2 linked regions of the Homo sapiens genome follow. The protein of the gene in region 1 interacts with the protein of each later gene in a biochemical or structural test. Each region holds a gene or a part of one and is shown on either strand. Other genes may lie near its edges.

The links.
Region 2: the proteins of CNOT6L (region 1) and TNRC6A form a complex in vitro, tested with the Homo sapiens proteins (one study listed by BioGRID).

What each region holds. Positions count from the first base shown.
Region 1 is NC_000004.12:77,724,903-77,732,481, forward strand, and holds part of CNOT6L (CCR4-NOT transcription complex subunit 6-like), read right to left. Parts: intron 6,637-7,579; coding exon 6,485-6,636; intron 4,180-6,484; coding exon 3,952-4,179; intron 1,468-3,951; coding exon 1,265-1,467; intron 1-1,264. UniProt on the Homo sapiens protein: Has 3'-5' poly(A) exoribonuclease activity for synthetic poly(A) RNA substrate.
Region 2 is NC_000016.10:24,823,259-24,826,905, forward strand, and holds the end of TNRC6A (trinucleotide repeat-containing gene 6A protein), read left to right. Parts: intron 1-173; coding exon 174-549; 3' UTR 550-2,960; downstream 2,961-3,647.

The DNA of each region.
Region 1 (7,579 bases):
AGCTTTCTTAGCACCTCTTCCCAACTCTATGTTCAATGGTATCATGTTGGAAGATAGGATTCTGCTACAGAAGTACTTAAACCACAGAAATCGGCAAACACCACAAATCAGAGCTTTTTCCCAAAAAGCTCATTATTAAATATTTACCAGCACATCACTACATACAAGTGGCTGGAACAAAATGAACTATCGCTGGATTGAATTATCTTTTCTAATAGCAAAAATACTAAATTAGATTCAATTTCTAAGCAATTTTTTTTCTCTTCATGATTATGAAAGCTGATTAGTAACAACACACGAATTTCTTTTCTTCCTCCTATTTGTTTCTTGGACAGGAGCTAACCCACACAAAAATAGAAAAAGGTTATTGGAAATATAAGGGAGGCCATTTGTAAATTTCCTTTGGTATTTTATTAAATTTCCTCTAGGCTTCTTATACCAAACCACTTTCTAACACTTGGATTTTTCCAGATAGTATAAGATTCTACTATAGATGCCTGAAATGCCAGAAAGTCAAAGAGAGGTATAATAGCAGAGCTACAGGTACACAGAGTGATCAGAAAACTAGCACTGGGAAAGAGATTACATAAAGCCACCACAATCTGTCTTTCTAAAGAATAGCTGGTCCTGTACAATCAGCCTTTCCATTTTTTTTCATATTTGTCAAAAAATGTCTTTCTTTTCCTTTTAGAGTGTCCCACTGCCTAGGAATATATTAGTATAAATACACAGATATAAAGTAGAACCAAAGTACAACCTGCTCTAACCCCATACCCAAAAATAACCTGAAAAACTTAAAGATACTAAGATATCAATGGAAAGTAGAAAGAAAATCTTGAGAAAATACTATATAAATTCATTCAAAGTGAGTTTTGCTATATTCGGTGCTTTTCTGTGGGGGGCGGGAGGTTAGGGGAGGGAGGTTACTGCTGAAAGTTAGGGATGGTTTGAGCAGGTGAGGGTTAACTATATTGATATATACAAAGTGCTTTGACCAGTGCCTGGTACCTAGTGAGCATTTTAGAAGTTTTTGTTATTATATTATTTGAAATCTAAACAAGCAAGAGAGCAAGAAGAATTTAAGACAACAATAGCCACAAAACCCAATAAACCTACTTATATTTAGGTGCATACTTAGCCTAGACATTTTAAGAATCTAAAAATTCCTGAAGATTATACAATTAATCATAAAGAATTTACACCTTTTTTGTTACATGCTTGTATCTGAAATAATTTCTACACCTGCCCAAAGGCTGCCACTCACTTTGAAATCAAAGGTGTAATTGGTGTAAGGCATCAAGTTATTTTCATAGGCGCTCTTAAGTTGGAAGCCATGTGTGATTCTCCCTTCTGAGCTTCCATTCTTTCCATTGCAGCTGAAGTTCATAAGACACTCATTGTACCTTAGTTCCTTGAAGTCTTTATGGTTGTCAGCTACTCCTCCATTGCTTAAGTATTCCACAACACCTGGTAGAATAAAGAAGAGACACTTCCATTTAGCATTTAGACCTTACACAAGGCTTCACAGCCAAGACTTGTTACCAGGTTAATCCACCAGGCTCAGAGTGGTCTTCTTAGGTTGAGCCATATAAAACTGCCTTTTGTTGTTGTTTAAAAATAAAAAATCAAATACCAGCCATTTCATATGAGTCAAGCAAATGAATCAAAGGATGTTTGCCTATTTCAGAACAAAATATATCAGGAACACTCAAAGATATCCTTAGTTTTCTTAGTGGTTTTTCAGGCTAAAGATGATTTCCAGGACCTAGGATGGCATTCACCAGGAAGGTATTAACCCTAAATGTTTTTGGAAAATTATTCCAAACCACTATCTCTTTAGTATTTCCCCATTCTAAGCAATCAACAACTTTGCGAATATATAAGTAGAGCATATTAATAAAAATAGTTTACAACAAAAACAGATTTTGCATCTTCAACATTTCAATGTCTAATGTCAGCTAGACAATATCATTCTTTATTTTGAGCTAGAGTGAGTTTTCTCAGTCTGACACTATAAAGCATATTATATGCCAGAAGTATACCACTTGGCTAAAAATACAAGGCTGAAGAGAAGAATAGCATTCAGAAAAGTGCACTGCTTCCACTGAATTAGCAAACATGAAAACAGTATCAAAACCCTTATGATGATTAGTGCACTGTTAGAGTCATCTTTCTATTTGTAATAAGGATTGATAGTAAGATATAATGAATGTGTGATAAGCACAATATCAGTATTGTAAATAGCTCAGAAGGCACTATCATTTGTCTAGTATTTGCTACATGCCAGGCACTGTTCTAAGTGCTTTATTCATGTAAATCTCACAATTCTATGAAGTAGATAACATGATTCCCCCCTTGTTAAAAATGAAGAACTAGGCTGGGTGCGGTGGCTCACACCTGTAAAACTCCCAACACTTTGAGAGGCCGAGGTGGGCGGATCCAGCACCTGAGGTCAGGAGTTCGAGACCAGCCTGGCCAACATGGTGAAAGCCTGTCTCTACTAAAAATACAAAAATTAGCTGGGCGTGGTGGCATGCACCTGTAATTCCAGCTACTGGGAGGCTAAGGCAGGAGAATTGCTTGAACCCGGGAGGCAGAGGTTGCAGTCAAGACTGCACCACTGCACTCCAACCTTGGCAACAAGAGCACAACTCTGTCTCAAAAAAAAAAAAAAAAAAAAAAAAAAAAAAAAAGGAAAAATGAGGAACTTAGTCACAGATTGCATAGTTCATAAGTAGCAAAATCAGGATCCAACCATGACAGTCTGGTACCAAAGTCATTTCACTATGTTGTGTTGCCAAATGACAACTAACTGGTTTTAACAAATCAAATACAATGGGAGAAAAACTTGCACTTGAGAGTAATTCAACTTAAGAAAGGATTAAGAAAGGAGCATGTGGTTAAAGTGCCAATTAGGCTAGGGGTTAAAGACAAACACTTATAAACAATGATTTCAGCATTATTTGCTAAGAAGAAAAAGATGTTTTCAAGTTCAGTGACTTTTTTTTAATATTCCAAGTGTAGGCATTTAGGTTATCTTATAGTAACCTTATTGTTACTTACTTTAAATAACTTAAAATAGCCTAGCAGTGATAATATACAAAATTTAGCATATGCTTTGGTATTGGCAAAAGAGTAATAGTCTAATGTTTTCCATTTGATACCTAAAATGCAGAAATTATTTTTATAAAAAGTAAAATGATAAAAGTTCAGACATAAAGTAGTTTAGTGGAGCTCAAGAAGTAATATGAAGCCCTAGGATAATTTTGATCATTCTTCTGTAACTACTAACATTATCCAAATATCATTTAATGAATTCACTTAAAAGTTGCTAACATTATTAAACTAGAGAGCTACACGTAATGAATATTTTCTGGCTGCCCCTTCAGATCACCCTTCTGCAGTACACTCTGTGCCTCAGGCAGCTGATCTTTATTGCATCAACTGCAAATCCCTCCCCGCTCTAGCTTTTGGTTGGATTTGATCAATGGGCAGCCTAGCAGGAGATGAAAGGACAGAAGCAGAGTGAGGTAAGAATATATATTTCCCTGGCTCCCTTCTTTTTGGTTTGCCAGGGATTGACCGCTTCATGCAATTCAAAGCCATCACTCCTATTATGTGGCCCTTTCCTACAACTGTATTTTTTCCAAGTTCTAATGACAGACAGCTCCCACCACTTTCCCTTTTAGGTAGAGGAGTGGTAAAGAGATCTATTACTAAATCCCCTAGTGGCAGAGTACTGCATCATTTATTGCTTTGTTTCCCTTAAACCAGGCAACACCTTTGGTAATAGCTTCTTTATTAAACTCTCTTCTATTACCTTGTGTCCCATCCATGGAATTCTTATGATACATTCCTTAATTTATCTACTCAAAATTTAGGAGCTAGCTGGCCTTTGAACCAAGAGTAAAAGTGAAATTGAAAGCAGTGAGGAAATGATATTATAAATACCTGAATCTGGCAATGAGTTAAGATCTGCACATAGCACCAGCGGGATGGAATTAGGATCTGCAGTTGGGCTTCCAGGCCTACTAGAGGCTTTCTCCAGAATGTTTTTAACCTCTGAGACAAACATCATGGTCTGGATGAGCTTCACATCAGAATACTCTGGGTCCCAATGCATGTGGGCATTTGCCACTATAAGCAGCTGTTTGTCTGCAGCATGAATAGGCTTCATACCTAAATTTAAACATTACAAAAAGAAGACAAAGTTATGCTTTATGTTTGAAGAAATGTGGCATCCTCAGGTTTTCTCAATATGATCCACAGCTACTTCTTTACTCTTTTCCATGAATTTATAACTTCCCTTTTATCTCATAAAGTAATTCTTAGAAGCTAAAGGGCTGAGATTCTGGTAATCCTACTATGGGAATTACTCTCCTAGATCAAGTTGGCAAACTGTAGCCCATGGGCTAAATCTGGCCCACAAATTTGGTATAGCCCTTTAAATATCTGTCATTTAAATAGCACAATAATGTAGTAAGGCAGGTTTTCAGTTGAGTTACCTAAACCTCAATTTAAATTCTTACTACTGTCTAGTACTCATTCACCTTGCATTTCCCAAGCACAACACAGCACAACTGTGATAGGTCAGCAGTAAAGGCAGTAAATTATATTAACCTATATAAGATAAAATAAGAAAGTCATCTGCTACCTGAACAAATTCACACCATATACCGAAATAACATTATTTTTAAAATCAGAATTAGAGAGTAGTGTGCTATAAAAGTCTGGACACGTGGGTTTTAGACTTGGCTTTCTTACTAATTATTTTATGTAGTTTTGGGTCAGTAATTTAACCAGATTCTTTTGGGAAGTGAAATATTCAACTAGAATATCTCTAAGGTTTTTTTTTTATTCCTATAATTCTATGTTTTTTAATTCTGTTAAAATAAACATTAACATAGTACTTTCCAAATGGTAGATGGAATACATTAAGATTTTTGAAAATTAAACATAGTTAACATTTACTGACAGATGTCCATAAAATATTCAAGATATAAAACTATTAATACATATACTCACATTCTGTATGTTAGTAACTCTATAGAGAAATCAACAAGAGCTATAATCTAGAGTATGAATGACATGAGGGATCTCTCACTTTTTACTTTACATACCTTTAAACCATTGGACTATCCGTAAACATACAAATTTAATTTTTCTTTTATAATTTCTATAGAAGCGTCTCAAATTTTTCTATTGGAATATAAGCTTTGGGGGAAAAGACCTAATTTTCTAAGTCTACTAGTTTGTTAAAGTTTCTTTCCAGTCTCACCAAGCTATAATTATCTTCAATGTTGAGAAAATAAGAAACTGAAGTATCTGTTATATCTGACATAGTCACCTTAAAAGCAATTTGATCATAAATGTCTGTAGCCAAATCTTCTAAGCGATCTTCTTTTCCCAGTTTTACAGTGTCACTTTTAGCTATAGATTAAGTATTCACAATATTAAAAATTTTCCCCTTCAAAGAGCCATAAGCACTATATTACTAAATTCCCCTTCTATGAGTACAAGAGATATGTATTTCAGAACGTAAAAGTCTCTACTATTTAGAATTACTCTTCCGCAAATTAAAAGAGGAGTAAAACTCCAAAAGATATTCTCCACAATATCAGAAAAAAAAGTACCAAACTTTGGGAAGAATAAGATTGTAAAGGACATAAAGGTAAATAAAAACGGAGGGGCTAAGAAAAGTAAAAAGTCCAAAATTTCATATCAAAGATTACCTTTGATAAGGAATAAATTGAAGTATGGTGAGAAAAGAAGGTTTGACACATATGCATGGTCTGAATAATTCAAATCAATACTCTAGTCCAAAATAATCTTTTCCTCTACAAAAAGTACAGGGGAAAAAAAGCCCTGATGTAGTCTCACTCCTTTCTTGCTTAAAATGTACTAGTAAACAGTGAGATGCTCAAAGGCAGGCAGTAAGAAGGATAAAAAAGGTCTGTGTATGAAGTACATAATGAGTTTCTGACTCTGAAGGAAGCTATAAATAATCTAAAATGCTAAAGTAAGTACCATGTAGATAAAAGATCCTGCTCTTACCCTGACAATGACTGAGATATAACAAAGAAACTAGAGGAAATGTGCCAAGTCCTTAACCTTAAAGACAAAAGAATCACACTCAAGCTAAAAATATAATTCAAAAAGAGGGCCAAGTCATCATAATTTCTAAATTCAGCCTAACCAAAATATTCCCTATTTAAAAGAACTGTTTGGGATTAATGGCATATTAAAAAAGACTTTACATAGATTATCTGGTAAGTAAAAAAGACTGTGATAGAGAGCACAAAATATCCCAACAAATATATGATGCTTTACACAATGGTGCTATTTTCCTGCCCATCTCCCTTAACTTTCCTCAAAAGAAAATAACTTTGCAATAAATAACGGCAAAATTCTCTTCACTTGTTTTGAGATGGAAAAACTTGGGATGGTGTTTATTTTTAGTAAGAATATTTTACATTGCACTCACCTGCTCCAAATAGTTCTTTGTGGACCTCTAATACCACAGCGACACCAATGTTATCTTTTGTCATCACTCTGTTCAGCATAGCTTCGGATCCATCTGAATTAGCCATCGCCACTTGGTTAAATTCCACTGTATGCTTCTGCACCAATGTAAATCTAAAAGGTACATTATTATAATTTTAGGTACCTAGACTATCATGCTGAAAGATATTAAATGAAAGAAACATGACATGCATTGTCTCCCTTGTCATTTTCTAGCTGCAAGTGACCATGTGATACAGTTCTGGCCACTAAGACACAAGAAGTCTGATTATTGTAAAAAGTTTCTCAGAGGCCCCACCTAACAAAGACAGCATATATATCCCTTCATGCTTTTATACCTTGCCCCTTACAGCTAGTGCTCGGAGAAATAATAACCATCTTGTGACCATGAAATAAGAAGCAGGAAGGCAAAAGCCAACCTTCTAAAAATGGGGAAGCAGCTGAACCAGTTCTGGACTGCCTATTTCTGGACTTCTTGTGTGAGAAAATCACCCTTCCCTCATTTGTTTAAGCTACTGCTAGAATTTTCTGGTATTTAAAGGTGCACACAATCTCAACTAAGTTAATGAGAAAAAGATAAAAAGAATACAATCCACCTACCCTGTTTGTAGTTTTATTTCTACCACATCAAGATATTTGTCAACAAAATACAGGGGCACACCTTTATCTCAGCTAAAGAGTAACTGATTTTTCCATCTGACTTTTACTAGAAAGTTGCAATGGGGTATAAGTATTCTGAGAAACAGATTCTGCAAGATGAAGAAATGACTCTCTCTGTGATTATAGCTTCTGCACTAATAATTTTTTCTTTCCTTCATTAATGCCAAATTATTAAGCATTGTAGAGTTGTAGGATTTAATAGAATTGGTTTAGTGCTGACATTTAATTGCAGTGGGATGTTGGTGAAGTCATTTAACCTTTTTCAGTCTAATTTTATTAATTTGTGAAATATTTATAAGTAATCAAAACCTACTAAATACATTACTTGCACTAGGTGTTCAGTGGAGAGAAGACATAGTCTTGTAACAGATCCCCTCCTCACTTTCCTTCAAGCTTT
Region 2 (3,647 bases), on another chromosome or scaffold:
AGCTGTGGGTGCACACTCGGGTGAAGGGAGGGCACGCAGGTTATGTGGTGTAGTCTCTCCCTCTGTGCCTTCTGTGGCTTTTCTAGCAGAGACAAGTTGCACCCTCACTTGTGAGTGAATGAAGCCCTCCTGGTGTGCTGTCCTCACGTGTCCGCGGTGCCTCTCTCCTCTAGGTGTGTACTGGGGAACACTACTATTCTTGCTGAGTTTGCCAGTGAAGAGGAGATCAGTCGTTTCTTTGCACAAAGCCAGTCTCTGACCCCTTCTCCCGGCTGGCAGTCTCTCGGGTCCAGCCAGAGCCGGCTGGGCTCCCTCGACTGTTCCCACTCATTCTCCAGCCGGACCGATCTCAATCACTGGAATGGTGCTGGGCTGTCGGGAACTAACTGTGGAGACCTTCACGGCACTTCACTCTGGGGGACCCCGCATTATTCCACAAGCCTGTGGGGTCCCCCAAGCAGCAGCGACCCCCGAGGAATTAGCAGCCCATCTCCCATTAACGCTTTTCTTTCTGTTGACCACCTGGGTGGGGGTGGAGAGTCCATGTAACAGTGTAGATGCAGACTCACCGACCGGGACCTCAGACGCGAGGGAAAGGAGCACTAAGTGGGGCTCGCCGCCTGCAGCCAGGGGCCGCCTGTGGGAACAGCTATTCTCTGCACATTTTCCACTTTGTTTTCCCCAAAACATATCAGTTTGAATACTTGAATCATGCAGGCCAATATTATAATGTGAAAAGGTATCTACTCTATTTACACTCCCAAATAGCGCCATACATGCTAAACCGTAGAGAATGAGCTCGCTTGTGTCTATTCATCATGTTTAGCCTTTGGATTCTTTTTTTTTTTTTCCTTCTATTCCTCCCCAACCCCCCCCCCCGCCCCTTTTTTTCTCTCTTGCAAAACCATTTTTTGGGCTGATAACGTATGAGCTTTTCCCTTTGCACTGAATGATGTTCTCTCCGTCTCATCGGCAGTATGGGGGGCAGCTGTCCCAGTGTCAATGTTTACTCAAGGGTGTTCTTAGGAGGCGTGCGCTCTCTACTATGCCTTGATGTTGCCTACCTTATTGTGGTATCGTGGAGTTTAAAAGATCAAGTTAGGATGCTGACTTAGGATTATTAATGAAAGTGTTGCACCAGTTTTTTCATGTTGTAAAACTAAAGAATTTCGCTCTGCAGTTTGAAAAACTGTGGCCACAGCTGTGACTTGCAGCCCACCTGCCACCCAGGACGGGCCCTGCACTTTGAATAGGCTTTCCATTTTGTTTTGGAGGTTCTCACTTTGAACCTTCTTGTTTACAGATTTTTTTGTTTGTTTTTTGAGAAAAAAAAATGTTTACTCTTCCATCATTTAAAAAAAATGTAAAAGACAAAAAAAAAATGGAGGATGATTTAAAAGATGCTTTCTATCTCTGGGAAAAAGGAGCAGCATTTGGCCATGTTCTTTTGTTTTTCTATTCCTGTCCCAAATCAAAGAGCATGGTTCTCAGGAAAACCAGTTCCCCAGTTTAAAAAAAAAAAAAAAAATTCCTTGTAGTTTCTTAGAGGAAAAAAAGAAAAACCCCAACTTTTAGCACTGATACTACATATTGCTCTGTTAAAGAATTTTCTCTGCCAAAAAAAAAGAAAAAACAAAAAAACGCTTAAAGCTGGAGTTTGACATTCTGCTTTCAGATGCTGTCTTTTTATTAGTGAGTGATGATGGTTTGCTAATAATCAATAGGTAATAATTTTTTGTAATCCCATCAAGTGGCTCCATATGTTTCTGCTCTCTCGTGACTGTGTTAATGTTTAACTGTTGTACCTTAAAGCCGAAATCAGTAACTATGCATACTGTAACCAAGGTATTGGGCTTACAGAGTTGTTTGTTGTATAAAGAAAATTTTAAATGTTGTTGCAAACTAACGAGTTACACCATTTTAAACTTTCTTTCCTCCCCCCTTTTTTTGCCCACAAATGGTATTATAATGCTTGCTTAGTCAAAGAAGAGAGACTAAACAAGGGTAAAAATTTTAACAGTACAGAATTTGCCATCATATCATTGCCTTGATTCTAACTGTTTGTGTCCTAAGATGCAAAAGAAGTCAGTGGCTTTTAACTGTTTACAAATAGAATGTGATTGTAAAATGTACAGTTTGGTTGTGTTTGAATTATGAAATTTCTTCAGATATAATAAACCATGACTTTTTGGCTGCTCAACATTAATTGTCTCCTTTTTGTGAATTTATTTGTAGGCTCTTTTTTATAATGAAAGTTTCAAAGTTGCTATGTATGAGGGTTCTCATAGAGCAACCGATTAAAAATCTAAGCAAATATTTGAACATTTTATCTGAACTCATCACAATTTCACCCTGAAATAATGTGAGAACAATGGGAAACTGTAGCTTGCTCCTTCCCACCCTCTCTGAGCATCTTTGGGATCTTGTTGCTCAAAACTCTTCTGTGACTTCATCTTCCCCACCATTTGTGCCCATCTCAAGCCTCAGCAAGAAACCATGTGGAACATGAAGCTTAATGACTTGACAGTGTACTAGTGTTAAACTCTCATACCTCTGTTACAAAGCGAGAAACGCCACACCCGGACTGGCCTTTTCTTCCCCCTTCACGGCCCTCGCTTCTCCCTGCAGGAGCTCGGGGGCGAAACCTGTGTATGGATTTCAGTGTATGACTTCAGATCATGCTCCAACTTGCCAGGTGTGAGCTAATGTTGTCGGACACCTTACTATAAGCAAATGTTATTCAGTGCGTTCAATGTATATTGACTTCCATACTGGTTTTTCCAAAAACCAAAGGTAGCTTTGAAAAACCATGTCTGGAAATGTTTGGAGCGTTAAGCTGATTGACCTTCTGACCTTGGGGCTTTGAGTAGTATATAATTCATAACTGCGTTAATTGTATTGTTAAAGTGTTTGGGAGTTTTTTGCGCTTGTTATGTGGAAATAAAGTGTTTGATTTAAAATTTTTTAAAGTGGTTTGGATCTTTGCCTAGTCCTTAAATAAATACAGCTCTATTCCCTAAGCCACCCTTACTTCTCGGTCTTAATCCCGACTGCCAGTGCCTGGATGCTGCCCTTTGTCTGGCACAGACCTGCAGCTGACCATGCTGGGCCCATGGCTCGGGGCTTTCTAGTCACGCAGAGCCACCAAGAGTCAGGGTAAACTTTTTAACACAGGCACTTAACACGTTTTTTCTTTGTTTTCTTTTTTCCTTTTCTCTTTCTACTTTCTTCCTTTTTCTTTTTTCTTTCTTTTTCTTTCTTTTTTTTTTTTTCTTTCGACAGGGTTTCACTCTGGATATCAGTTCACTGTCACCTCTGCCTCCCAGGCTCAAACGGTTCTCGTCCCTCAGCCTCTCAAGTAGCTGGGATTACAGGCACCTATCACCGAATCCGGCTAAGTTTTGTATTTTTAATAGAAATGGGGTTTCACTGTGTTGCTCAGGCTGGTCTCAAATTCCAAAGCTCAAGCGATCTGCCCATCTCAGCCTCCCAAAGTGCTGGGATTACAGGCATGAGCCACTGCGCCTGGCCTCAGGCATTTACACATTTTCAAATATCCCTCCTTGCTCTGCTCCCCTGGGTGTGTTCCCAGCTCTAATGAACCTCAACTTCTCTGCGGTGCTATGCTTTCCACCCTCAAAGACTGG